Linked DNA regions of Homo sapiens. The protein of the gene in region 4 purifies or fractionates together with the protein of the main gene of each other region. This does not show direct contact. Each region holds a gene or a part of one and is shown on either strand. Other genes may lie near its edges.

Region 1 (7,027 bases), on a different chromosome or scaffold from region 4:
GAACACCAGAAAAGGGTGTTATAGACACCAGCTTCCTACCACCTGAGACATTACCAATTGCATTTCTAAAATACAAGCATGAGCTCCTCCAGGAAGCTGGTCCTTTACCTGTCCAAATCCTTCCCACTCCCACCTGGGTTAGGTCTACTATTCTCTGGCTGGCATGGCATCCTGTGCATACACATACGATAACACACTGTACTGGAACTGCCTGAACACTGCTTTGCCAGTCTTCATTACCATAGGAGTATCTTGTGATCAGAGGCTTATGTCTTACTCATCTTCTACCATCTTCTACCTGGCATAGTTGGTGCTTAGCACCCCCCAAAATGAATACTTAAATATAAATCTAACAAAACACGCATGGTATTGATATGAGGAAGAACTACCAAACTCCAATGAAAGATAGCAAAAAAAGTGGTAAATAAGGGGAGACAGTGCATGTACTTAGATAAGAAGACTCAACTTTGTCAAGATATCATTTTTTTCCCAACTTCATCTATAGGTTCAGCAAAATCCTTATCAAAATCCCAGCAAGTTATTTTGTGGATATCGACGAACTTGATTCTAAAGTTTACATGGAGAGGCAAAAGACCCAGAATAGCCAACAAAATATTGAAGAAGAACAAAGTCAGAGGACTGAGACTACCTGACTTTAAGACTTACTCTAAAGCTACGGTAATCAAGACAGTGTGGTAGTGGGGAAAGAACAGATATACGGACCAACAGGACAGAAGACAGTGACCAGAAATACACTCACACAAATAAGAGTCAACTCATCTTTGACAAAGGAGCAAAGGCAATTCAACAGAGAAAGAATTGTCTTTTAAACAAATGATGCTGGAGCAGATGGACATCCACATGCAAAAAAATTAACCCAGAATAAACTTTCTAATACCTTATACAGAAATTAACTCAAAAAGGATCATAGACTTAAATATAAAATGAAAAACTATATAATTCCTAGATAACATAGGAGAAATTCTAAGGGACCTTTAGTTTATGGATGACTTTTTAGATACAACACCAAAAGTATAATGCATGAAAGAAAAAGTTGGACTTTATTAAAATTAAAAACTGATAATTAAAACATTAAAAACTTCTGCTCTGCCAGCCAGGCCCGGTGGCTCACGCCTGTAATTCCAGCACTTTAGGAGGCCAAGGTGGGTGGATCACTTGAGGTCGGGAGTTCAAGACCAGCCTGACCAACATGGAGAAACCCTGTCTCTATTAAAATTACAAAATTAGCCGGGCGTGGTGGCGCGTGCCTGTAATCCTGGCTACTAGGGAGGCTGACACAAGAGAACCACTTGAACCCAGGAGGCAGAGGTTGCGGTGAGCCACTGCGCTCCAGCCTGGGCAACGAGAGCGAAACTCCATCTCAAAAAAAAAAAACTTCCACTCTGCCAAAAACAGTGTTAAAAGAATGAAAAACAAGTCACGGACTGGGAGAAAATATTTGCCAAAGACCCACCTGATTATGAACTAGTAGCCAAAATTATACCCGAAAAAAAAAACCCACTTAAAATTCGACAATACTCAAAGAAAAACAGCCTGATTAAAAAATGGACAAAAGATCTGGACACATCACTAAAGAGATATAGATGATAAATAAGCAGACAAAAAGATGATCAACATCATATGTCATTAGGGCCTTGCAAATTAACATGAGATAACACTACACACTTATTAGAATGGCCAAAATCCAACTGACAACACCAAATGTCAGCAAGGATGTGGAGAAACAAGAACTCTCATTCACTGCTGGTAAGAAGGAAAAATCGTACAGCCACTGTGGAAGACAGAATGTTGGTTTCTTATCAAACTAAGTATACTCTTACCATACAATCCAGTGATCCTGCTCCTTGATATTTACACAAAGGAAGTAAAAACTCACATCCACACAAAAACCTGCACACAAATGTTTATAGCAGCTTTATTCATAATTGGCAAAACTTGGAAGCAACCAAGACGTCCTTCAGTAAGTGAATGAACTTTAAAAACTGCAGCACATCCTTACAGTGGAAATGTTGCTCAGCCAAAAATAAAGGAAATAAGTTATCAAGCCTTAAAAAGACATGGAAGAACCTTAAATGCATATTGCTAAGTGGAAGAAGCTAATCCAAACAGGCTGCATACTATATGATTTCAACTACACAATATTCTGGAAAAGGCAAAACTATGGAGACTTTACAGGACTCTTAGCTTTCTTGCTTGTGGACCCTATTTTCCAATGTTATTAAAAACTAGCAGCACAACTGTCACAGTAAAGATGAGATCAGGCAAAATCATAAATGCATGCTAAATCTTGGGTGAGATTTTGATGAGGAGGGAGGTATTTGTGTCTCCCCACAGACTGCCTACTAATTGCAAGGGGATTTAAAAAAAAAAAAAAAAGTCATCATAAAGTGGAGAAACTGGCCCAGCACGGTGGATCATGTCTGTAATCCCAACACTCTGGGAGGCTGAGGCAGGTGGGTTACTTGAGGGCAGGAGTTCAAGACCAGCCTGGGTAACACAGCAAGACTCTGTCTCAAAAAAGTTTAAAAACTAGCTGGGGGTGATGGCATGCACTGTAGTCCTAGTTACTCAGAAGGCTGAGGCAGGAGGATCACTTGAGCCCAGGAGTCTTGGGGCTATAATGATCTATAACAGTGTCACTGCACTAAAGCCTGGGCGACAGAGCAAGAACCTGTCTCCAAATAAATAAATCAAATGGAGAAACACCACCACCTTGACTGGGTGATCAAAAATTAATTTCACCAATGAGAGGCAGATGGATATTGTGTGCCTACAGACGTGATGCCCCGAGAAAAACACAACATGAATGATATATTATTATTAGCCATGAATGCATAACCTGCATCTAGTTAGGAAGAAACATCAGAGAAACTAAATATGAGAACATCTGATTTTAAAAAGGTGAGGGAGGCATATTCTCAAAAAAAAAAAGACCATGTAAATGTTTCAGGTTAAAGAAGGCTAAAGAAACAACTAAATGCAATGTCCCCCTCTAAATTGGATTCTGTACTGAATAGGGAAAATGCTATAAAGAACATGACTGGCCGGGCATAATGGCTCACACCTGTAATCCCAGAACTTTGAGAGGCCAAGGTGGAAAGACTGCTTGAGCCCAGGAGTTCAAGACCAGCCTGAGCAACACAGTAAGACCCCTGTCTCTACAAAAAATAAAAATTTAAAAATTAGCTGGGTGTGGTGGCACGTGCTCGTGGTCCTTGCTACTTATGAGGCTTAGATGGAAGGATTGCTTGAGCCCAGGAAGTCGAGGCTACAGTGAGCTGAGATTGGGCCACTGCACTCCAGCCTGGGTGTAACAATTTTCAAGCTTCATCTTTACAAAGTGTCCAGCAAGTGGGATTTTTTCCCCTCCTTGAGGGTACACTGTATGCTTTAGTTTTTATCCCAACAATGGATACTAAAGGTAATCGTAGAAAAAGGAAAAACGAATTAATATGCCTCCCTGATCTGTATGATCCTATGAGATTATGTCATAAGACATAATTTCCACAACATGGTTCTATGGCCTCCTAAACTGAAAGAAAATCAAACAGTTCAAGCTACAGTAAGTATCTTTCTATCACCTCAGGTATTCATTGTCAATAAGCAACATTACATTAAGAATACAGACAGATTCCTTTTAACTGAAAAATACATCTTTAACTCCTATACCTAAGAATTACAACTTTCAAGTTCATCTTCCATTCTGTCTTTCTCAAAGAACAACCTTTAACATAGTAATTCAATTTTTCTCTATACAAAATTGTATGATATACTTACAGTTTCACAAGTAAGACATCTGGTTTCATTAGTTAATGTTCCCTGAAAAATCTCATGAACCCACGTTGGGTCTGGTGTGCTGTTATTATTTTCATTATCAATATTACCATTAGGTAAACGACCATTTTGTTTTTCCTGCTTTCTCTCTTCTTGTAAAATATCAGCAATTGTATTTAGTAGGTAATTTAAGAATTCATGGGCATCTTGTTGCATGTAGTTGTCAAAAAGCTCTGAAAATAAAAACATTATATTAGAGAATTATTTCAGAATTCATAACTTCATAAAAAACCAATTTATAAAAGAATATCTAGTATTGGATCAGAACTAAAATATAAATGCACAATGTTTTTGTAATGTATAACAAATAACTTTCGCATCTAAAACTTTTATCTGTATTTGGGGAAAATGTAAAATTAATTAAAATCTTGTTTAAAAATACTACTAATTGATCCTGAGAAAAGGGCAAAACCTATCCTTATATATTGGCATAACAGATACTGAGAATTTAAGAAGAAATTGCTTATTAGCTTACCTGACTTATTATTTCACAAATATTTCAACTTGGCAAGCTTTAAAGCAGAAGTTGGACAACCATTTGCCAATGCCAAGCCAACTGCTTTAGACCCACAAAGTTTATCAAAAATAAATTACTGAACCATACATCCCAGGGATTCTGATTTAGTTGATAAGGGGTAAGCCCAGAACGTGGGGCTTTTCAAAGCTCCTCCAACTAACTCTGATGTAGAGTCAGGTTTAAGAATCATGTTATCAAGAATTATCTATATAATCCAGATAATCTCAAGTCCCTTCCAAATGTGAGACTTTATAATTCCACAAAACGTTCCCTGCAGTTACACAAATGAGTAAATATAACTGAAATATTGGTGGTGCTAACATCAAGCGTGCTTTACCCTGTGCTTGGCAATATACAACTCTACCATAGAACAGTAAGGACTTTAGAGGCAGTATCTCATTTGATCCCCAACAACCATGTAATATTGTTATTAACTTTATTTGTAAACATGAAAATGGGACGAGACAGAGTACAGTCACACTGCCAAGAAATGGCAGAGCCAGGATTCAAACTGGGCAGCCTGACTCCACCATGCCACACACAAAGTAATGCCCAGTATAAGCCCACACACAAGAACATACATGAATTGGTCAATAAAATGCATTGAGAAAAATTACCTATTTAGGACATTTTATTTTTAGATCCTCAATGTACATTTAATAAGTTCCAGAAAGATTTTACATTTTAAAAATGAATGCATACAAATTTAGAAAAAAATTTAGGGAAAGTCTAAGATAAAACAAATTAACAATTACATTTTAGAAGAGATACAGATATGACTACATAAAATTAAGTTCTATGTATTAGAAATCTTTAAAAAAGTTTTAAAAAAAGTGAAACCTGAAAATTATTAACATTTTCAACATATAAAAGCAAATCTCATATAAAAGAAAACCAAACTGGACAATCTTATAAATGGCAATCAATTTATAAGAAAAAAACAATCAAAAGGCTAAAAAACATGAGAAAATGTTCAATCCCATAGTAAGTTTAAAAAAAAAAAAAAAGCAGGCCAAGCGCAGTGGCTCATGCCTATAATCCAGCACTCTGGGAGGCCAAGGCAGGTGGATCACCTGAGGTAAAGAGTTTGAGACCAGCCTGGCCAACATGGTGAAAGTCCGTCTCTACTAAATACAAAAAATTCACTGGGCATGGTGGCACATGCCTGTAATCCCAGCTACTTGGGAAGCTGAGGCAGAAGAATCGCTTGAACCCGGGAGGTAGAGGTTGCAGTGAGCCGAGATTGCGCCATTGCACTCCAGCCTGGGCAACAAGAGCAAAACTCCATCTCAAAAACAACAACAACAAAACAGAATACCATCTTTCTTTGCAAAGTCATTGTAAAAACAGAAAGGGAATGAGTGAAGCTTTTTATGGGGGTAGGAGGGCACAGCTGCTAGAGCAAGGCTGTCTGGGTTGGTGCTATGGTTCTACTTCTAACTGCACGCGTGGCATAGGCAACTTATTCAAGCTCCCTGTTCCATAATTCCTCATCTGAAAAATGGGGCTCACAGCAGTACCTGTACCTCACAAGGCTGGGAGGAAGATTAAAAGTGCTTAGAATACAACAATAGGTTTTGTATTCTGTTCAACAACAACCACAGTAACAATATTGGCAATATCACTACATGTTGAATATCCTTTATCTAAAATGCTTGGGACCAGCAGTGGTTGGGACTTCAGACTGCTTCAGATTTGAGAATATTTTCATACACATAATGAGATATTTTGGGGATGTGACTCAAATCTAAACATGAAATTCATTTGTTTCATATACACCTTATAGCCTGGAGGTAACTTTATATAGTACTTTTTTTTTTTTTTTTTTGAGATGGAGTTTTGCTCTTGTTGCCCAGGATGGAGTGCAACTTCATATAGTATTTTTAAAAACTTTGTGCAGGGAAGTAAATTTGTGTACACTGAACCATCAGAAAGTAAAGTTGTTACTACCTCAGCCACCCCATGTGGCATCATGCAGCTCAAAAAGTTTCAGATTTCTGGATTACGGATGCTCAACCTATATAATTGTTGTTGCTACTGAACAGAATACAAAACACATCAAAGACTGACTATGTAAAAACTATGAACTTCTGTATGGCAAAGTCAACATAAATGAAGACAAGTGACGAACAAGGATAATTATTTGCATATTAATATCCAGACTATGTAAAGGTTTAATATACAGAATATTTAAAAAAAAACCCTTTACAAAACAAGAAAAAAAATTTTAAAAACTGGCAAAGGAAAATAGCCAATTCAGAGTAGAAATACAAATGCCTAAATAATACATGACAAGGGACTGGGAAATAACAATTAAAACAATGACAAAATATCATTTTGCCCATCACTTTGGCAAAATAAAAATTGACTTAGTTTCCATCCAGTGTTAGCTTGAGTATGGAGAAATGGACATTCTCAACTGTTGCTGCTGGGAGTATAAACTGGTATGGCACGTTGTAAAGGCAATTTTGGTAACAGATTTAAAATAATGCAACCTAGTTCTCCCAGGTATCGATGCCAGGTAAGTATCTGTGCATGTACCAAAACAAGCATAAATACGGCTGCTTATTTATAACAGCAGAAGTCTGAAAATATCCTAAATGTTTATCAACAGGAGAATGATTTATTTAAATTATGCTATAATTTTGTTAGGGA
Region 2 (7,027 bases), on a different chromosome or scaffold from region 4:
ATGGGAGAAAATTTTTGCAATCTACCCATCTGACAAAGGGCTAATATACAGAATCTACAAAGAACTTAAACAAATGTACAACAACAACAACAACAAAAACAACCCCATCAAAAAGTGGGCAAAGGATATGAACAGACACTTCTCAAAAGAAGACATTTCTGCAGCAGACACAAGAAAAAATGCTCATCATCACTGGCCATCAGAGAAATGCAAATCAAAACCACAATGAGATACCATCTCATGCCAGTTAGAGTGGCAGTCATTAAAAAGTCAGGAAACAACAGATGCTGGAGAGGATGTGGAGAAATAGGAATGCTTTTACACTGTTGGTGGGAGTGTAAAGTAGTTCAACCACTGTGGAAGACAGTGTGGCGATTCCTCAAGAATCTACAACTAGAAATACCATTTGACCCGGCCATCCCATTACTGAGTATATACCCAAAGGATTATAAATCATTCTACTATAAAGAAACATGCCCACGTATGTTTATTGCAGCACTATTCACAATAGCAAAGACTTGGAACCAACCCAAATGTCCATCAATGATAGACTGAATTAAGAAAATGTGGCACATATACACCATGGAATACTATGCAGCCATAAAAAAGGATGAGTTCATGTCCTTTGCAGGGACATGGATGAAGCCAGAAACCATCATTCTCAGCAAACTATCACAAGGACAGAAAACCAAACACCACATGTTCTCACTCGTAAGTGGGAGCTGAACAATGAGAACACATGGACACAGGGCAGGGAACATCACACACTGGGGCATGTTGGGGGGTAGGGGGCTGGGGGAGGGATAGCATTAGGAGAAATACCTAATGTAAATAACAAGTTGATGGGTGCAACAAACCAACATGGCACATGTATACTTATGTAACAAACCTGCACGTTGTGCACATGTACCCTAGAACTTGAAGTATAATAATTAAAAAAAATTATCTCAAGTACCTATAGTGATTCTATTAGGAACAATTATACCCTTTCTCCACATCTTAAACCAAAAACGAATTTTTCTATGAATTAAAGACTGAAATTTAATAACCATAAAAATAATTTTTGTTTTTATTTTTTGAGAGAATCTTGCTCTGTCACCCAGGCTGGAAAGCAGTGGCCCGATCTTGGCTTACTACATCCTCTACCTCCCAGGTTCAAGCAATTCTCGTGCCTCAGCCTCCTGAGTAGCTGGGATTACAGGCATATGCCACTGTGCCCAGCTGATTTTTGCATTTTTAGTAGAGATGGTGGTTTCACCATGTTGGCCAGGCTGGGTTTCAAGTGGTCCACCCGCCTCAGCCTCCCAAAGTGCTGGGATTACAGGCGTGAGCCACTGCACCTGGCCAGCATAAAAATAATTTTTAAAAGACAGGTGAATATTTACATAGTCCCTTGCCAGAGAAAACTCTTCCAACATGCCAAGAAAGATGGTAATCTTTACGAAGGAAAAGAGCAATGGTGATCTGGCCAAATACAAGTCAAAACCTTTTCTATGTACAAGAATGTTCACAGCATTGTGGCATTCACAATAATGTTACAAAAGTGGAAACAACCCAAATATCCATCAATGGACAAAACAAATAAAATGTGATGTGTGTGTGTGCATATATATATATATATATGCACACACACACACTGTACTGACACATGCTATAACGTGGATGAACCTTGAAAATGTGCTAAGTGAAAGAAGCCACATATTTTACAAAAGGCCACATATTTTATGACTCTATTTATATATAATGTCTAGGATAGACAAATCCACACAGAAAGTAGATTAGTAATTGCCAGGAGATTGAAGGAGGGAAAAATGAAAAACGGGGAGTAATTGCTAATGAACATAGAGTAATTAAACATTCTGGAGTTAGGTGACCAATAAACAACTTTCCGAATATACAAAAAAATCACTGAATTGTACACTTTGAAAGGGTGCACTTTATGGTATGTGAATTTTATCACAATGTTATTATTTTCTTAAACCTTCTGAATGTCAAAAAGTAACACGAGCAAGACTAAGAGAATAATGAAATAAATATGAAAGAAAGTTTACTCTTAACAAGATTCCTTATAAAATAAGAAAAAGTCAAATTTACCAACAGAAAGAGGGACAGTTACAAAAAGGGACTTTTTAAAAAAGAAATGGCCAAAAACCCCATAAATAATCAAAGACAAAATTAATATGAGATTATTTTACCTATAATACAAGAATTTTTTAAAATAACTGCCATTTTTGTTTCCCCTGAGGATAAATAAACACTTTCTGACAAAAGTTTTAAACTCTTTGAAATGTTCTTTAAAATTCAATTTCCAGAAATTTGTCCTTTAAAAAGGGCCAGGGCTGCAGACACAAATAGCTACAAGGATGTTGTTTTAACCCAGTCTTTTGGATGCAATTAACTGTAACTGAGATCTACTCAAACCAGCTTTTGTTTGTTTGTTTGTTTTTTAAAGGAGACTTCAACACAAGGATATCTTAACAGAGCCCAAGGTCAGGAAATACAGTCATCATTTATAAGAGGCATTTAAAAAATCAAATCATGACACTTCTCTGCTGAAACTTTCCAATGGCTTTTCACAAAATTTAAAGTTCAAACTCCTCAAATGCTTAGTTCTGACCCTGCATCCCCCACTCATTTCAAACTGACTGCCCCCAGCTTCTTTTATGACAGTCATTCCAAACTCCTTTCTGTTACCGTAAACACATCAAGCTCTTTCCCATCCCAGTACCTTCTCATTTACTGTTGCCAGTGTCATGAAGATTCACCACCCCTCGAATCCCTATAGGAATACTCTTTCTCCAGCTTTCATCTTGTCTAACTCACCCTTACTCTTCAGATCTTAGGAGAAAGGTCTCCTTGGAAAGGCCTTTCTGATCTCATTCTCCTCAGGGTTATGACCCTATCTATCTTACATTACTTATTTAACAGTTCTTACCACATTCTGTATTTTTTTTTTTTTTTTTTTTTTGAGACGGAGTCTCACTGTATCGCCCAGGCTGGAGTGCAGTGGTGCGATCTTGGCTCACTGCAACCTCTGCTGCCCAGGTTCAAGCAATTCTCCCAACTCAGGCTCCCGAGTAGCTTAGATTACAGGTGCCTGCTATGGCGCCCAGCTAATTTTTGTATTTTTAGTAGAGACAGGGTTTCGCCATCTTGGCCAGGCTGGTCTTAAACTCCTGACCTTCTGATCCACCCACCTTGGCCTCCCAAAATGCTGGGATTACAGGTGTGAGCCACCGCGCCCAGCCACATTTATATTTTTTGGTGTATCTTCTCCATTAGAATAATAGCTCCAAGAAGGCAAGGGACTTGTCTGCCTTGTTCCTTCCACCCCTGTGCCCCCATTATAGTGTCTGGCATATAAAAGACATACGTATCATTGCATGAATTGGCTTTCCAAAGCCACCAGGAACCAAGCTAGCTTCAATGTCAACTTCAGCCTCTCTCAATCTCTCTTTCTCTGGGGTTCCAGGGCTGCTTACCTAGCTCACATTTCCTTTAACTGAGACTGTGCAGCATATCTAAATCTTGATATCCAGACTTCTGGGAGATTATCTGACTGGTTAAGGCAAGAGTGAAAGAATAACCTGAATGTCAGAATTCTCATTCTAGGTGGAAAGTAATTACTGTTAAAACCAGTCTGGGCCAACCTCTTCAACGGTATTTCCTAAAGACGTGTGCTTTAAAATGCAAAAGAATTAGAAGTATCCTAGTTGGATAAATTCTAGCACGCACATCTGTAAAACACAACACTATTCAATCACTTAAAATGTTGATGTAGGCCAGGTGTGGTGGCTCATGCCTGTAATCTCTGTGCTTTAGGAGGCTGAGGTGGGAAGACTGCTTGAGCCCAGGAGCTTGAGGCTGCAGTGAGCTATGATGGCACCACTGTACTACAACCTGGGCAACAGCATGAGAGCCCTGTTTCTAAAGAATAAGAAAGAGTTGATGGAGGTCTAGACTGATAAACATGGGCGGAAAGCCATGATATATTTTTAGTGAAATATGTGTGGTCCAACACAACAATGTACAATAGTCATTATTATAAAAATGTTTCAAAATATTAAATATTTCAGAACAAATACACAAGTTTTGAAGACTATACATATATAAAAATAACCAGGGGCCAGGCGCAGTGGCTCATGCCTGTAATCCCAGCTTTGGGAGGCCAAGGCGGGCAGATCACGAGGTCAGGAGATCAAGACCATCCTGGCCAACATGGTGAAACCCCGTCTCTACTAAAAATACAAAAATTAGACGGGTGTGGTGGTGCGCACCTGTAGTCCCAGCTAGTCAGGAGGCTGAGGCAGGAGAATCACTTGAACCCAGGAAGCAGAGGTTGCAGTGAGCCATGACGGTGCCACTGCACTCCAGCCTTAAGACAGAGTGAGACAATGTCTCAAAAAAATAAAAATAAAAATAAAATAAAATAACCAGCAGTTATTTCTGAATGATGGGATTATGGTGATTTTTCACTCATTCATGTCTCTTTCATGTGTTCTGAATGTTTTACAAACAACATGTATTACTTAGTTTTTAAAATTTGATCATTTGTTATCCAAGTAATTCCTGCTTGTATTTAGAAAATCAAATAGTAATGACTGTAATGAAAAACAGTCTCTCTACTGTCTGGATAAGACTCCCACACCTAGTCTTCATCCCTAAAGGTAACTAATTGCAACTCAGTTGTTGCTACTGGATAGTTAACTGCATTTCTCTAAATATTGTGCTTATCCTATAACTTTTTGGCTCATCCATTTTAGACATTATCGATTTACTCATGCTACTGTAGATTAGGATGTAGTTCTGAAACTACCCTCAATATCTCCTCCCTCTACTCTTCTAATATAGATACATCCCTATTTTTAATTGAACAAATAATCCGTGCTATATTGTTGTGACTGTAAGGCTATCTACTAAGTACTATATTATGAATACATTTCCTTCCTCAAAGAGCTTTTTGTTTTCCCTAGAGTTTTAATTTTTCCTTCTTCAATGGTTTTCTCCACTTTAATTTCAATTTTAATTGCTGTACCACAGAACTCACCCCCACCCCTTTATTTTCTCAGAAGGCTTCCCCCTCCAAACCCTCCTTCTTCTCATTACAATCTAGGCTGACTGCCCTCTAGATCTGCTGGCACAGCTGTCACCTTTGGTGTTTTCCTTTACTGCTTTTCTGGGTTACAGCCATTGTTTCCTGAATTCTAATGCCTCCTTCTTTCTTTGTTCACTCCATAGTTTTGCTGAAATACATCCCCAATACCTTAAGAAAGTAATATAAGAAAAGGCACATGGGTTGGCAACTTAGTCCTTGCATGCCTGAAAAGGTCTTTCCTCCACATTTACACTTGATTTAGCAATTCTCTCAGCTCTTGAAAGCATTGCTGTAAGTTCCTCTAGCATCCAATGTTGCCACTGATTTCAATGCCATTCTGTTTCATACAGCTTTAAAGGGATCCTATTTTCATTCTTTCCTCCACTCCCTCGTCATCTCCTTCCCTAAGCTTTCAGGATTTTCTCTTTTTCCTTGGTGTTGTGACATTTCTTGTTTGTTTTTTCTATCATTAGTTTTTCTGTGCATTTAGAAAGCCCCTTCGATCTAGAAATTTGCGGCACTTAAGCTCCGGGAAATTTTCTTGTATCCATTATTAATCATCATCTCTGTTTTCTTTGCTCTTTCTTGAACTCAAATGAGTCAGATACTGGAACTTTCAAACTGATCCCTCATCTTTTATGCATTCTGTATTATCTATCTTTGTCCTTTCATTTATTTTTGTAACACTTCCTTTACTATTTTATAACTGGAGGTTTTTTCAAAGCAAATTATAGTATGATGGAAAAAAAATCAAAGCAATATCTTCAATAAGGAAATGGCTAGACAAATTATGGTACATCCATTCTATGTGGTCATTAAAGAACGAAAACTATATATGCTGATATGTTTCAAGACATGTCACCTTAAAAACTTGTTATCTGCATCCATTAAAGTACAGAGAAAAAATTTAAAATGTCTGGCTATAGAAAAATAGAGGAAAATGGATTTAATTCTTTCAACGAATATTAACTAGGCACCCACTTGTTGCCTGGCACTATTCTAAATGCTGAGGATACGGTAGTGAGCACAAAAGTCCTCTTGGCATTTAGCTGGGGAAAGAGCTTAACTAGAAGTGGCAGCAAGTTAAGCGAAGTATTTTTTTTCCCCAAGCACTGTGAAGCACTGAAGGAAGAGGCCATAACAGGAGGAAAAATGGAGGCACAGAGAGCCAATCAACAGACTCAGGTTGCTGGAAAATCATACCACCAAGGGACTGCTAAGGATGGAAAAGACTTGCTTTGATATCCTGGTTACCAGAGAAAATGCTACATCATGTATCTGAATTCACATATTTGATTATGTTTCTGACAGTCACAAATCCATCCCTCTTCCCTCGTATCTCTAGTTTTCCTAGAAGTTGAAGATGGTAGGACATGGACTCATTTAAAATTATGTCTACAATTAATATGCAGTATGTTTGGACCCCTCTCCACTGATTTTAAGTATCATTTTATTTTATTTTTGAGATGGAGTCTCGCTCTGTCACCCAGGCTGGAGTGCACTGGTACAATCTCGGCCCACTGCAACCTCCGCCTCCTGGGTTCAAGCGATTCCCCTGTCTCAGCCTCCCAAGTACCTGGGATTACAGGCATGCGCCACCATGCCGGCAATTTTTATATTTTTAGTAGAGACGGGATTTCGCCATGTTGGCCAGGCTGGTCTCGAACTCCTGACCTCAAGTGATCTGCCCACCTTGGCCTCCCAAAGTGCTGGGATTACAGGCATGAGCCACCACGCCTGGCCTCCACTGATTATTTAGCAATATTTTTAAGTCTCAAGGGTTTGTCTTGGCCTACAACTTGACAAGGAGCTCAGGGCTACTGTCTCGTGGTCTGAGACAGTCAGGAGACAAAGTATATTTACTCCAAGTACCCATGTATGCTTTTTCCAAGATGAGAAGTTTTCTTTTTGATGTATAAGAGCAAATAATGT
Region 3 (7,027 bases), on a different chromosome or scaffold from region 4:
AGTGGAGGAGGGCACCAAACTGCTGTAGTGGTAGCATAGCACCCTTACCCACACCATTGTCTGACCATCACATTGTTCTTTGTGTCCCTAGGGCCTTATGTGCCCAGACCACAAGGAAGAGGTGACCCACTACTGCAAGACATGCCAACGCCTGGTATGTCAACTCTGCCGGGTGCGGCGCACCCACAGCGGGCACAAGATCACACCAGTGCTCAGTGCCTACCAGGCCCTCAAGGTAAGGACCCCCCTTATCCAACCCTAGTGCTAACTCACACTCTTACCCTCTTGCACCTCCTCCCAACTGCTGGCTTCTGCAGAGCTGGGCTTGATGCCCACCTCTTTCTTCCCCCTCAGGACAAGCTGACAAAGAGCCTGACATACATCCTGGGAAACCAGGACACGGTACAGACCCAGATCTGTGAGCTGGAGGAGGCCGTGAGGCACACCGAGGTGAGGGAGGGCACAGAGGTAGGCCCTGGGCCCTGCCTGGGAGTAGGGGCAGGAAGGGGGTGTGGGTGATCATGACCCAATCACCTTGTTGCTAGCTCAGGAAGCCCGTGAGGTGTCCAGGTTCTGGTTAAACCAGGTTTGCAGGAACACCAGTGCCCCAGGCCAGGCTGTACCTGGGCTGCAGGAGGGGGCAGGGTGGCTATAGCTCAGGAGAGTGCTCGAAAAACCCCATGCATAGCTCAAAAAACCCCACGCGTAGCTCAGATGCTCTCAGGCTCAGGTGCCTACCGAGGATGTCACGCATTCCCAGTGCTAGAGTGAGGTGATGACTGATACCTTCTGCCAGGTTGCTTGAGCTGGCTGACATGGGGATGGACAACTAAGGATGGCATAGATGCCAGTGGACATTAATTAGTGCAGTCCAAGTGGACATTAGGGTAGCCATGGCCTCGTTCATTTGGATGAGTCACTAAGGGGCAGAGATTATGATGTGGGGTTCCGGGAAGGTTGGCACAAATGACCAGGAGTTGAGTCCATCTAGAGGTGCCTTTGCAGCCATGAGCCCAGGCCCTGTAGGAATGGGTGAGTAGGATTTCCCCAGATCCCTTGTGACCTTAGCCATGCTGTGGCATCCAAGGAGGCCAGCACAAGTGCTGCCTCCAAAAAGAAGATAGTAAGTCACGCATCCTTTGGGTGTTGCTCCCTGGGCAGGTGAGTGGTCAGCAGGCCAAGGAGGAGGTGTCGCAGCTGGTGCGGGGGCTGGGGGCTGTGCTGGAGGAGAAGCGGGCATCACTGCTTCAGGCCATTGAAGAATGCCAGCAGGAGCGGCTGGCCCGTCTCAGCGCCCAGATCCAGGAGCACCGGAGCCTGCTGGATGGCTCAGGTCTGGTGGGCTATGCCCAGGAAGTACTTAAGGAAACAGACCAGCCTTGCTTTGTGCAAGCCGCCAAGCAGCTGCACAACAGGTACTCAGGGGCATGGGCTCCTAGGGGGGCAGGGACATCATGGATGTGACCAACATCTAGGACAATGTCTACAGTACTGCCAGGTGGAGAACTGGCATTCTAAGGATTCTCATGAGGCCAAACTGATACCAGCTCCCAAAGCAGTTCCCAAGGCTCTAGGGGCAAGCAAGACAGAATTGAGGGGAAGGGAGACTGCCCACATGGCAGTGCCTGACCCTTTCTTGCCCCCATCCCAGGATTGCCCGAGCCACTGAAGCCCTCCAGACATTCCGGCCAGCTGCCAGCTCCTCCTTCCGCCATTGCCAGCTCGACGTGGGACGTGAGATGAAGCTGCTGACAGAGCTTAACTTCCTGCGAGGTAAGGAGATGGCCAGGCCCCATGCCCAACCAGAGCCTTCTTCCCTTCCTCCCCAGCAGCGGGCCCGGGGGGCAGTGCCTACCGGGGACCTCCCCGGCCTCCTGCCCGGCCTGGCCAGCCATTCCTCCCACCCAGCCCACCCTGCCACACCGTCCTACCGCGCTCAGCGCTGCTTCTCCCTCTCTTTGTTTGTAGGCTGTGGCCACCGCGGACTCTGCTCCGGAGCACCCCAGGCAAGTCAGCGGCCCTGCCCCGGGGGCCCTGCCCGCCGCCGGGCCCCCTTCCCACCCCGCTGCTCCCACGCATCTCAGCCAACCACTCATTGCTTCCTTCTCTTTCCTGCCTTGCCCCGACCTCGTGGTCCTCCCACTGGACCAATGCCCTGTCTCCCTTCTGCCTTCTTCAGGCGCTTGCGTAATCCTGGCCCTTCTGACCTTTTGTCCTTGTGACCCTTGCCCTCTGGCCTTGCACTTCCTTTCCCTTGACCTCCAACCCCTGCCCTCAGCTTTTGCTGTCCCTCTGTTGTCCCCACTTTCCACCTCGCTGCCTCCTAAATCTCTCTTCTGAGCCTGGTCCCCTTCCTTCCTGCTCAGCGCCCTCTTGCCTGTGGGCTCCAGTGGCCTTTGCCTGCCCCTCCCTGGGGCTCCTCTTAATTCATAGAATAACTGAGCTGCAAGGGCCCCCAGAACTTACCTGATCTGATACCCTCATTTGACAGGGGAGGAAACTGAGGCCCAGAAAGGGGAAGTGACTTATTCCAGGCCAGAGTGAGGTAGCAGCAGCCCAGAACTAGCACACAGGTGTCCTGACCCCCAGCCCAGCGCTTTCCTGCCTCGTTCTCTCTTGGGCCCTGCCCTACCCCTCCTGTGCCCAGTTCCCAGATGAGCCCTTCCCCAGCTCCCTCTCACCCACACTCACCCCCCCGGCTCCCGCTGCTTTCCCTTTTCCTGCCTGCCCCTGCCCTCCATGCCAGGCCAGTGGCCAGGCCCTGACTGACACCCGCTGTCTCTTCCAACAGTGCCTGAGGCCCCCGTCATTGACACCCAGCGCACCTTTGCCTATGATCAGATCTTCCTGTGCTGGCGGCTGCCCCCCCATTCACCACCTGCCTGGCACTATACCGTTGAGTTCCGGCGCACGGATGTGCCTGCTCAGCCAGGCCCCACCCGCTGGCAGCGGCGGGAGGAGGTGAGGGGCACCAGTGCCCTGCTTGAGAACCCCGACACGGGCTCTGTGTATGTGCTGCGTGTCCGCGGCTGCAACAAGGCCGGCTACGGCGAATACAGTGAAGATGTGCACCTGCACACGCCCCCGGCACCTGGTGAGTGGGCAGGCACAGGTGGTCGTGCAAAGGGCATGGGGTATGCCAGGGCCTAGGCCCTGACGGTTGGTTCCGGTGGCCGCTAGAGAGGCCATATAACATAGTAGGTCTCACACACACTAGCTCTGGAGCTAGACTGCTTGGGTTCAAATCCCAGCTCTGCCTCTTGCCAACTGTGTGGGTGGCTTCTGGCAAGTTTTTACCCTCTCTGAACTTCAGAGTCCTTTTCTGTAGGGATAACGATAATACTGGCCAGGTGCAGCGGCTCATGCCTGTAATCCTAGCACTTTGGGAGGCCAAGGAGGGAGGATTGCTTGAGGCCAGGAGTTCAAGACCAACCTGGCCAACACAGCGAGACCCGATCTCTAAAAAAATAAATAGGCCAGGCGAGGTAGCTCATGCCTGTAATCCCAGCACTTTGGGAGGCCGAGGCGGGCGGATCACAAGGTCAAGAGTTTGAGACCAGCCTGGCCAACATGGTGAAACCCCGTCTCTACTAGGAATACAAAACTTAGCCAGGCGTGGTGGTGCGTGCCTACAATTCCAGCTACTCGGGAGGCTGAGGTAGGAGAATCGCTTGAACCTGGGAGGCGGAGGTTGCAGTGAGCTGAGATCGCGCCACTGGACTCCAGCCTGGACAACAGAGCAAGACTCCGACGTCTCGGAAAAATAAATAAATAAATAAATAAATAAAGGCCAGGCAAGGTGGCTCACACCTGTAATCCCAGCACTTTGGGAGGCCAAGGTGGGTGGATCCCCTGAGGTTGGGAGTTTGAGACCAGCCTGACCAACATGGAGAAACCCCATCTCTACTAAAAATACAACATTAGCTGGGTGTGGTGGCGCATGCCTGTAATCCCAGCTACTTGGGAGGCTGAGGCAGGAGAATTGCTTGAACCCAGGAGGCGGAGGTTGCGGTGAGCCGAGATCGCGCCATTGCACTTCAGCCTGAGCAACAAGAGTGAAACTCTGTCTCAATAAATAAGTAAATAAAATACGTAAAAAATAAATTATTTTTGGCTGGGCACAGTGGCTCACGCCTGTAATCCCAGCACTTTGGGAGGCCGAGGTGGATGGATCACGAGGTCAGGCGTTCAAGACCAGCCTGGCCAACATAGTGAAACCCCGTCTCTACTAAAAATGAAAATGAAAATAATTAGCTGGGTGTGGTTGCAGGCGCCTGTAATCCCAGCTACTTGGAAGGCTGAGGCAGGAGAATGGCTTGAACCTGGGAGGCAGGGGTTGCAGTGAGCCAAGATTGCGCCACTGCACTCCAGCCTGGGGAACAGTGTGAGACTCCGTCTCAAAAACATATATATATTTTTAAAAAATGATAATGCTTACCTCATAGAGTTGCAAGAATTCAACTGGTTTGAGACGATCAATGGGAGTCTGAGTACAGTGTCCGGCTCATGGTTAGGGCTCAAGAATGTTACTAAAGTGACTAGAAAATAGTTCGGACTCCAGGGGGTGGGCATAAGAGGGAAGCCTTGCCACCCAAATAGGGGCTGGGTATAAGGGCCAGGTGTGAACCCAGAGTATGGGCTGGAAGGCACAGATTGATGGTGATGGGAATGTCACCAGGTGGAACAGAATAGTGGGAACTGTCCATGGGGCTGGCCACAAGTAAGGGGTTCGAGGGAGCCCCATGAGTCAGCCAGGTCCGGAGCACTGACTTCTGTGCCCACTGCCATCACAAAAACTCTCTGGGGTCCCACGCCCATTTGGAATGCCCCCTTCTTTTTTCCTCATGCCCCCCATTCCAGTTTCCCATGTCCTGTTCTCCTGAACCCCCTGCCTGTTCCTGGTGACTGAACCCCCTTGCAACGCGTTCCCTGTTCTGCAGTCTCACAGCCCCCAGTGCCAGTGTTTGTCCCTGAAGTTCTTGCTCCATCTCAACCCTCTCCCTCCTTCCAGTCCTGCACTTCTTCCTCGATAGCCGCTGGGGCGCAAGCCGAGAGCGGCTGGCTATCAGCAAGGACCAGCGAGCAGTACGGAGTGTTCCAGGGCTGCCCCTGCTGCTGGCTGCTGACCGGCTGCTGACCGGCTGCCACCTGAGTGTGGATGTGGTCCTGGGCGACGTGGCTGTGACCCAGGGCCGCAGCTACTGGGCCTGCGCCGTAGACCCAGCCTCCTACTTGGTCAAGGTGGGCGTCGGGCTGGAGAGCAAGCTTCAAGAAAGTTTCCAGGGTGCCCCCGATGTGATCAGCCCCAGGTCAGACCCCTCTGGAAGGGATGGGGTGTGGGGGTCCTGGTGGGAGTGAGGGGCACAGAAGGGGTGGCAAGTGGAGCACAGACTTGCTAGGGTGGGGCTGGGAGGGGATTAGGAGGAAGTAGTAGGAGCCTGGAAGCCAGGCTGGGAGGCCTGTGTCCAGGAGACGCATGGGCTCAGCAAAAGGGCTTTTGAGGACTGATTTTCAGAGCATGTCGTGTGGTCAGGGAAAGGGATGATAGAAGAGGGAGCCATCTCTGCTTCCTTCCAACCATCTGTCACTCTGGATCAACACACCATCTCTCCAAGCATCTGTGTCCTTTCTTCCTAACACTCCATTTCCAACATACCTTCTCCATAAAACCTTTGCTCTCCAAGACCTCCTTCACCCGTATCTTAAAATTCTTCCCTTAGCCGGATGCGGTGGCTCACGCCTGTAATCCCAGCACTTTGGGAGGCTGAGGCAGGCAAATCACTGGAGGTCGAGAGTTCGAGACCAGCTTGACCAACATGGAGTGACCCCATCTCTACTAAAAATACAAAAAAAATAGCTGGGCGTGGTAGCGCATGCCTGTAACCCCGGCTACTCGTGAGGCTGAGGCAGGAGAATCACTTGAACCCGGGAGGTGGAGGTTGCGGTGAGCCAAGATTGTGTCATTGCACTGCAGCCTGGGCGACAAAAGCAAAACTCCTTCTCAAAAAAAAAAAAAAAAAAATTCTTCCCTTAAACATCCCACCTCCATAACCCTCCTCTCCCCAACTCCCTGTTTTTTTTTTTTTTTGAAATGGAGTCTCGCTCTGTCGCTCAGGCTGGAGTCTAGCGGCGCGATCTCCGCTCACTGCAAGCTCCACCTCCCGGGTTCACACCATTCTCCTGCCTCAGCCTCCCGAGTAGCTGGGACTACAGGCACCCGCCACCATGCCCAGCTAATTTTTTGTATTTTTAGTAGAGACGGGCTTTCACCGTGTTAGCCAGGATGGTCTCAATCTCCTGACCTCGTGATCCGCCCACCTTGGCCTCCCAAAGTGCTGGGATTACAGGCGTGAGCCACTGTGCCTGGCCCCAACTCCCTATTTAACACCCTCCCACTAATGCTTTGCATCCTAAGCCTTCTCCCCAGCACTCTATCCCCCAACACCTTATTTCTTCAAAATGCTTTCTCCCCAACACAAACCCCTCCTAAACCCCATTGTCCCCAACCCCGCATACCTCTAACACCCTTCATTTGTGACACCAATCCACCCTCATCTCTCTCCCGACACCCACCTTCCCAACATCCTTTCTCTTCTTAGTCACTAATCTCGGATTCTTCCAATGTCCTCTAATCCTCAGAACCATCTCCCCAGCATGATTTCCCCAAGACCATTTTTCTCAATGCCTTTCCGCGGGCTATACCAATGCCATGTCTTTCCTGTCCGCCTGCCCCTCTCTTGCCAATGTGCTTTCCTCTCAGTGCTCTCTTTCCACCAAACCCAAACCCCTGACCCTATACTCTAACCCCTGCCTCTTCAGCGTTTTCTTCTCAACACCCAAAATCCATCCCTTCAACCTCTTGCTCCTTAACATTCCATCCTTCCAGCGTCTCCCTCTGGTACCTCATCCGTCACTCCATCCCTCAACAATCTCGTCCCCAACACCCGCTTCTGCAGGTACGACCCGGACAGCGGGCACGACAGCGGTGCCGAGGATGCCACAGTGGAGGCGTCGCCACCCTTCGCTT
Region 4 (7,027 bases):
GTTTCCTTAGATGAACTCTAATATAGAATTCTGACAAAACAGCCCAGAAATGGACCCACACAAATACAGTCAACTGATCTCTGAAAATCAAAGAGCAAAGACCATACAAAGGATAGTCTTTTCAACAAATGGTCCTGGAACAAGAGGACACCTACATGCAAAACATGAATATAGATACAGAGCTTACACTTTTCACAAATATTAACTCAAAACAGACCATGGACCAAAATGTAAAACACAAAACTAAACTTCTAGAAGATAACACAGAAGAAAATCTAGGTGACCTTGGGTTTGGCGATGAGTTTTAGATACAATACCAAAAGCACGATCCATGAGATAAAAACTGACAGGTGGGCCTTCATTAAAACTAAAAGCTCTGCAAAAAAACACTGTTAAAAGAATGGAAAGACAAGCCCCAGACTGGGAGAAAATATTTGCAAAACAGGTATCTGATAAAGAACTTGTTTCCAAAATATACAAAGACTCTTAAAACTCAACAATACAGAAACAAACAATCCAATTTACAGTTCTCAAAAGATCTGAACGGAATTCATCACGGAATTCCACTTTGTGATAAACAATGTTCACAAGTAATTGCTAAAGTTCTTCTGAAAGCAAAAATGTTAATTTCTAAAAAAGGAGAAAAGCTATAAAACAGTAGAAATACTGATGTTTCATTATCAAAAGAGAACACCAGAGCATACTACACCACATAGAGTATAAACACAAAACATTTTGAAACTTTGCATTTCAGAATGGGGATGTCAAACTAGAGAACTCTTTCTTCTATTTGGAATAACAAACCAGATGAGCTGGAAATTAGCTAAGGCAGATATTTAACATCCATCTTACAACCCAGCTATCAATATACAGGATCACAAATTAGGATTTTGTATTTCTAATTCACTTTGCTTTTTCTTTGTGCTAGTCACTAACTGATCAGATTTTCCTCCAGTACTGTTGCTGAAACCATCTGCATTGAACTTTTATCTGGATTGGATACAATTTACAGGGCATGATAGGAAGAAAATGGGCCTTCATCACCTCTACACAAAGCAGCCTCCACTGATTTGGGGAGCAGAAGTGACTGGCGGGGAGCGGAACACACCTCTGTGATGATGGCTTTTTGGTCCTTCACCCTTTGAGCCTCCTCTGGGTCCTGCTCCAGGCTGAAGACTTTAGAGAGGGGCACTGGCTTCCCACCTCGGCACAGGACTGCTTGGCACGTGCCAACATTGGCTACAGTCAAGCTAAAGCTACTTGCTGGATCGGCAGTGTCAGGGCGGATGTAGCACAGGAGAGCGGAGGAGCCCAACTTCTGGCCAGCCATTCCTAATTTCCTGTTCAGAAAGAAAAGGAAAAGAAGACGTGGTGGCTAGTTTTAGAAGAAAGTGGTGGTCCTGCACGTACATCCCTTCTTTTTTTTTTTTTTTTTTTTTACCATGTGATCGTGAACCAGCCTTACCCTTATCCACCTAAATGCAGACTTGCTGTGGCTGATGGTGGTGGAGACAGTTCTGCCTTCCACTCTCGCTGAGGAAAAGGTTTTACAAAAGGGAGATAATCTCCCTTTTGCATCTTTCTCCATAGCTTTTGTGTCTGATCAAAGACTTCCTAATTCAGGGGCTCTCAAACTTTAACACATCAGAATCCCCTGAGGGCTTGTCAGAACAGGGACTGCTGGGCCCTAGGCCCAGAGTTTCTGAATCAGTGGGTAAGAGGCTGGCCCAATAAACTATACTTTAAGCAATTTCTGGTGAGGCTGAGAGGCTGCTGTTCCTAGAACAACACTTTGAGAACCACTCACTTAGGTTCTAAGTTCCTCGAGGGAAGGACCATGATTCTTGCATTTCCCCCATATGCAGGGCATCCACGCGTCTGTACTTGGAAACAATGTTAACGAGGAACAGACACTAGCAGAAAGACCTAGTTTCAAATCTCAGCTCTGCCATTTTCTGGCTACAGACACTCAGCAAGCCATTTCTCCAGGAAATTTCTCTGATAAAATATATAGCATGGAAAATACTTGCTACAATTCCTGGCTTGAGTTGCTTCATAAATGGAGTTCCCTTTCCTAAACCCTTTATTTTTGCAAAGTCTCTAGCTCAATTATACTACTGAAAAACTGACTTCTTCCTAACACTTTGCTTTGTGTTATGACAGATAAAACTAATTCAAGCCCATCCTGGCTAACACGGTGAAACCCCATCCCTACTAAAAATACAAAAAATTAGCCTGGTGCAGTGGCTCACGCCTGTAATCCCAGCACTTTGGGAGGCCGAGGTGGGCAGATCACGAGGTCAGGAGATCGAGACCATCCTGGCTAACACGGTGAAAACCCATCTCTACTAAAAATACAAAAAATTAGCCGGGTGAGGTGGCGGGCACCTGTAGTCCCAGCTACTCGGGAGGCTGAGGCAGGAGAATGGCGTGAACCCGGGAGACGGAGCTTGCAGTGAGCCGAGATTGCACTACTGCACTCCAGCCTGGGGGACAGAGCAAGAAGACTCCGTCTCAAAAAAGAAAAAAAAAAAAAAAAAAAAAAAACTAGTTCAAGCTCCAAGCTGTTCCATTTCAACCTGGATTATACAAGTTGACAAACAACCTCTCAGTTGTTCCTATCCTTTATCGGTCCACCTGACATGCAAATGCTCCATTACAGTTAGGTTATACAGATGTCCTCAACTTATGATGGTTCAACTTAAGATTTTTTGACTTCACGATGGTGCAAAAGCAATACTGTATGCATTTAGTAGAAACTGTACTTTGTATTTTGATCTTTTCCTGGGCTAGTGACATGTGGTACGATGTTCTCTCATGATGCTGGGCAGAGGTAGCGACCCATAGCTCCCAGCCAGCCACTTGATCACAAGGGTAAACAACCAATACAGTGCCCTGTGTCACCACATGATTTTGCCCAACTATAAGCTAATGGGGTAAGCGTTCTGAGCACACTTAACGTAGGCTAGGTGAAGCCATGATGTTCGTTAGGTTAGGTGTATTAAATGTAGTTTCTACTTACCACATTTTCAACTTATGATGTCAGGCTTACATCCTTATCAGGGTGTAACCCTATTCTAAGTTGAGGAGCATCTGTATATGGTTTTTGCCCTTAAGTGGCTTATACTTTACTTAGAAGATTAGTTTGGTAAAACCCCAGAAAGAGGCATTCTAAACGTTATCAATCTGATAAGTATTTGGTTAACTGTTTTGTAGGTCACTGACTGCTTGGACAATCTTATGAAAGCTGACCACCTTCCTCCTCAAAATGTACAACCACATATATATACACACACAACATTTTGCACATAAATTCTGGGCTTCCCAGATCCTCAGCAGCCTTTGGATTCAACAGAGAAAACAGATGACCCCCACAGGCTTTTGAAAGAGCCGAAGTCCCCGCACTCCATGCTCATATAGAGAATGATCATAGAAGACAACAACGTGAGTTCTCTCCTTGATCCTGTATCCATAATTTAGACCCTGACCTTCTGGTTTAGAAAAATATATTTTCCAAAAGTAGAACTGAGTTAGGGATTTTTCAACCCACCTGCTTACCTGTGAGATACCAAGAAGGTGTTAGCCATGAAAACTGTGTCATTAGTTGACTGCTGTACCTCTTCTAAAAGCACATCTGCCATCGTACACTGCAGCAGGCGCGGGAGCTCCTCATTTCGGTCTCCATCAAACATGCCATACACAGCTCCCACCCCCTCTGCAAAGCTATCCATAGCAAGTGCTGAGACACACAGCCTATAATAGAAACATGAAAACAGAAAACAGAAAAGTTACTGGTAAAATATTATTCTCCAGGGAGCATTCTTTTTTTTTTTTTTTTTGAGAGGGAGTCTTGCACTGTCACCCAGGCTGGAGTGCAGTGGCATGATCTTGCCTCACTGCAAGCTCCACCTCCCAGGTTCACGCCATTCTCCTGCCTCAGCCTCCCGAGAAGCTGGGACTACAGGTGCCTGCCACCACGCTGGGCTAATTTTTTTGTATTTTTAGTAGAGATGTTAGCCAGGATGGTCTTGATCTCCTGACCTCATGATCCGCCCACCTTGGCCTCCCAAAGTCCTGGGATTACAGGTGTGAGCCACCGCGCCTGGCCAGGAGCATTCTTTTAAAAAGTAAGTATTAATTAAAGGTGGCAAAGACTACTAGCAAATCGTAATCTACACGTAAGAAAAGTCCCTAGACATGATAATTAAGCAACATCTGAAAGAGCTAATGTCCTAAGGAAAGGGGAAACAGTCGCATTCATGGGCAGTACATATTAGCTTTGCAATGCTGCCAAAGGCTGGTAAGATAAAGCACTTTCTCTTAGTAGTGACTAAGGATTAGCTTTGTCAAGGCCTATCAGTCAAAGACCACCAGAGCACACCTATGGTTGAAAAAGTTGAGTTTATTACCCCTTATAGCAAATGAGAGTGCACCCCATGGAACCCCGGGGTATACAGGTAAGTCTTGCTGAAAAGAACCCAGTATAGGGTTTGGACTTTGGTTTGGTCACTTTGGGGAGGGTCTAAGGAAGAGGATCATACTAGACTGGGTGTCATCAGAAAGTGAGGCCATTCTATTGCTGGGTATAAAACTTATCTATAGGGAAGGAAAATTAGCAGAAGGATAAAGCTGTAACTGGTAAAGAAAGTAGCATCTACCCATCTTAGCCATGAAAGGGGGTGTTTGGTATTCTGTTGACTACACATTAGTATTGTTTTTGTCTTAAAACGTTATCATGATCCCAAAGGGATCTTATCTGACGCTGATGTTCTATGATTTGTCTGTGTACAACAGAACAACATGGCCTAGCTATTATGAGCATCAGGCCAGTTCTCAGATGCCAGGGGCTGCCTTTTTTCTTTCTCAGTCTCCATGGCCAATATACTCACTTATTTCTCTGCCCTGCCATCTCAGCCAGTCCATGGCTCCAGAAGGTTGACGTAACTGTAGAATCTGTGGTTGGCAAAGGTTTCTGATCAATTTTCAGGGTTGTGATATGGCTGTGGGAGGTGAAGGAAGATTAAACCATATATTCTTCTGTATTTTACAAAAACTATCCCAACAATAGTATTCTTTTTTTTTTTTTGAGATGGAGTCTCCCTCTTGTCACCCAGGCTGGAGTGCAGTGGTGTGACCTCAGCTCACTGCAACTGCTGCCTCCCGGTTCAAGCAATTCTCCTGCCTCAGCCTCCTAAGCAGCTGAGATTACAGGTGTATGCCACCATGCCCGGCTAATTTTTGTATTTCTTTATTTTATTCTATTTTATTTATTTATTTTTTTGAGACGATCTCCCTCTGTTGCCCAGGCTGGAGTGCAGTGGCGCAATCTCGGCTCACTGCAACCTTCGCTTCCTGAGTTCAAACGATTCTCCTGCCTCAACCTCCCAAGTAGCTGGGATTACAGGCACCTGCCGTAACAACCAGCTAATTTCTGTATTTTTAGTAGAGACGGGGTTTCACCATGTTGGCCAGGCTGGTCTCGAACTCCTGACCTCAAGTGATCCGCCCGCCTCGGCCTCCCAAAGTGCTGGGATTACAGGTGTGAGCCACCGCTCCCGGCTAATTTTTGTATTTTTAATAGGGATGGAGTTTTGTCATGTTGACCAGGCTGGTCTCAAACTCCTGACCTCAGGTGATCCACCCACCTTGGCCCCTCAAAGTGCTGGAATTACAGGCGTGAGCCACCACGCCCGGCCAACAATAATATTATCTTTTTTTTTTTCTCTTTTTTGAGAAGGAGTCTCGCTGTGTCGCCCAGGCTGGAGTGCAGTGGCGTGATCTCTGCTCATTACAAGCTCCGCCTCCCGGGTTCACGCCATTCTCCTGCCTCAGCCTCCTGAGTAGCTGGGACTACAGGCGCCCGCCACCTCGCCCGGCTAATTTTTTGTATTTTTAGTAGAGACGGGGTTTCACCATGCTAGCCAGGATGGTCTCGATCTCCTGACCTCGTGATCCACCCACCTTGGCCTCCCAAAGTGCTGGGATTACAGGCGTGAGCCACCGCACACGGCCAATAATATTATCTTTTAATAAAATAATCTATGGACTGACTAAGATTCATTTCCAGAGAGACTGATGAAAGTAGTATGCTGAACTACTGGCAAAGAAGGAGGGGAGAGAAAGGAAAGGGGTAGGAGGATCAAAGGGGTAGGAGTTTCAATAAAAAACTAAGCACAACAAAGATTTCTATGTTTTAGCCAACCATCTATTTATGTTAAGTATTTTGATACAATGAAGTCTTGGTACAATGGATGAACTTGTATTGTCTCTTAGATATTATATAATCTGTGCCACCTAAAACATCTATGCCTGTTGTGAAAATATTCAGTATGTTGGGGGGTAGTAGCCATGGAGTAGTCCTAATATAAACAGGTTGACTACTGGATAGAACATCTATTCATAACTTAATCAAAGAAGAGAACCTAGGGGCTTTATAGCCTAACTTCATTCTGTTCTTTTAATTAATCAAGATCTCCACAGTACTAAGGAAGACCTACACATGGCTGGTGGGCTAAGAGCACATAGAGATTCCATTTCAAATTTTTTCCTACCTAAATATGTCCAGTGTCTTGTGTTCCAGAACCAGATTTGTATTTCCAGTCAGGTCAAGGTCTTGTAATGTAGCAGGCAAAGCCTCTGGAATCAGGATTTCTGTCAAGTCGTTGCAACTTAGGTCTACAAACTAAGAAAAAATTGAGAAATCAAAAGAAAATACATCACAGAGACTTAGTTCTTTACTCCCAAGTGTCCAATCTCTTACTATATCCCCAAAGAGGAACTTAATTTCTTCCCAGGAATCCATTACATAAATTCTGGTCCCAAACTGGAGCACATAAGAAGACAATAATATTTTTCCTTATAAGAATAATCTCATTCACACTCCTTTCTTCTTCTTTATAAAAGGAAAATAATGTCATTCACTCTCCTGCCATTTCCCCCAATAAGGACATCATTCCAGCACACAGAAGTACCTGGATCTGAGGCAACTGCAGTATTTCTGGGAAAATGCTGATGTTGTTGGAGTGTG

What was found.
Region 1: the proteins of PHLPP2 (region 4) and USP12 purify together in Homo sapiens (affinity purification with mass spectrometry; 3 studies listed by BioGRID and IntAct, with this or other methods). This does not show direct contact.
Region 2: the proteins of PHLPP2 (region 4) and WDR48 purify together in Homo sapiens (affinity purification with mass spectrometry; 5 studies listed by BioGRID and IntAct, with this or other methods). This does not show direct contact.
Region 3: the proteins of PHLPP2 (region 4) and TRIM46 purify together in Homo sapiens (affinity purification with western blotting; 2 studies listed by BioGRID). This does not show direct contact.

Annotation. Positions count from the first base shown.
Region 1 is NC_000013.11:27,091,803-27,098,829, forward strand, and holds part of USP12 (ubiquitin carboxyl-terminal hydrolase 12), read right to left. Parts: intron 4,029-7,027; coding exon 3,799-4,028; intron 1-3,798. UniProt on the Homo sapiens protein: Deubiquitinating enzyme that plays various roles in the regulation of the immune response and inflammation.
Region 2 is NC_000003.12:39,055,016-39,062,042, reverse strand, and holds part of WDR48 (WD repeat-containing protein 48), read right to left. Parts: intron 1-7,027. UniProt on the Homo sapiens protein: Regulator of deubiquitinating complexes, which acts as a strong activator of USP1, USP12 and USP46. Enhances the USP1-mediated deubiquitination of FANCD2; USP1 being almost inactive by itself.
Region 3 is NC_000001.11:155,176,841-155,183,867, forward strand, and holds part of TRIM46 (tripartite motif-containing protein 46), read left to right. Parts: intron 1-91; coding exon 92-235; intron 236-354; coding exon 355-450; intron 451-1,161; coding exon 1,162-1,415; intron 1,416-1,651; coding exon 1,652-1,773; intron 1,774-1,968; exon of another isoform or gene 1,969-2,006; intron 2,007-2,791; coding exon 2,792-3,094; intron 3,095-3,594; coding exon of another isoform or gene 3,595-3,662; exon of another isoform or gene 3,663-3,839; intron 3,840-5,011; coding exon 5,012-5,309; intron 5,310-6,956; coding exon 6,957-7,027.
Region 4 is NC_000016.10:71,651,682-71,658,708, forward strand, and holds part of PHLPP2 (PH domain leucine-rich repeat-containing protein phosphatase 2), read right to left. Parts: coding exon 6,972-7,027; intron 6,683-6,971; coding exon 6,552-6,682; intron 5,001-6,551; coding exon 4,890-5,000; intron 3,754-4,889; coding exon 3,559-3,753; intron 1,341-3,558; coding exon 1,109-1,340; intron 1-1,108. UniProt on the Homo sapiens protein: Protein phosphatase involved in regulation of Akt and PKC signaling.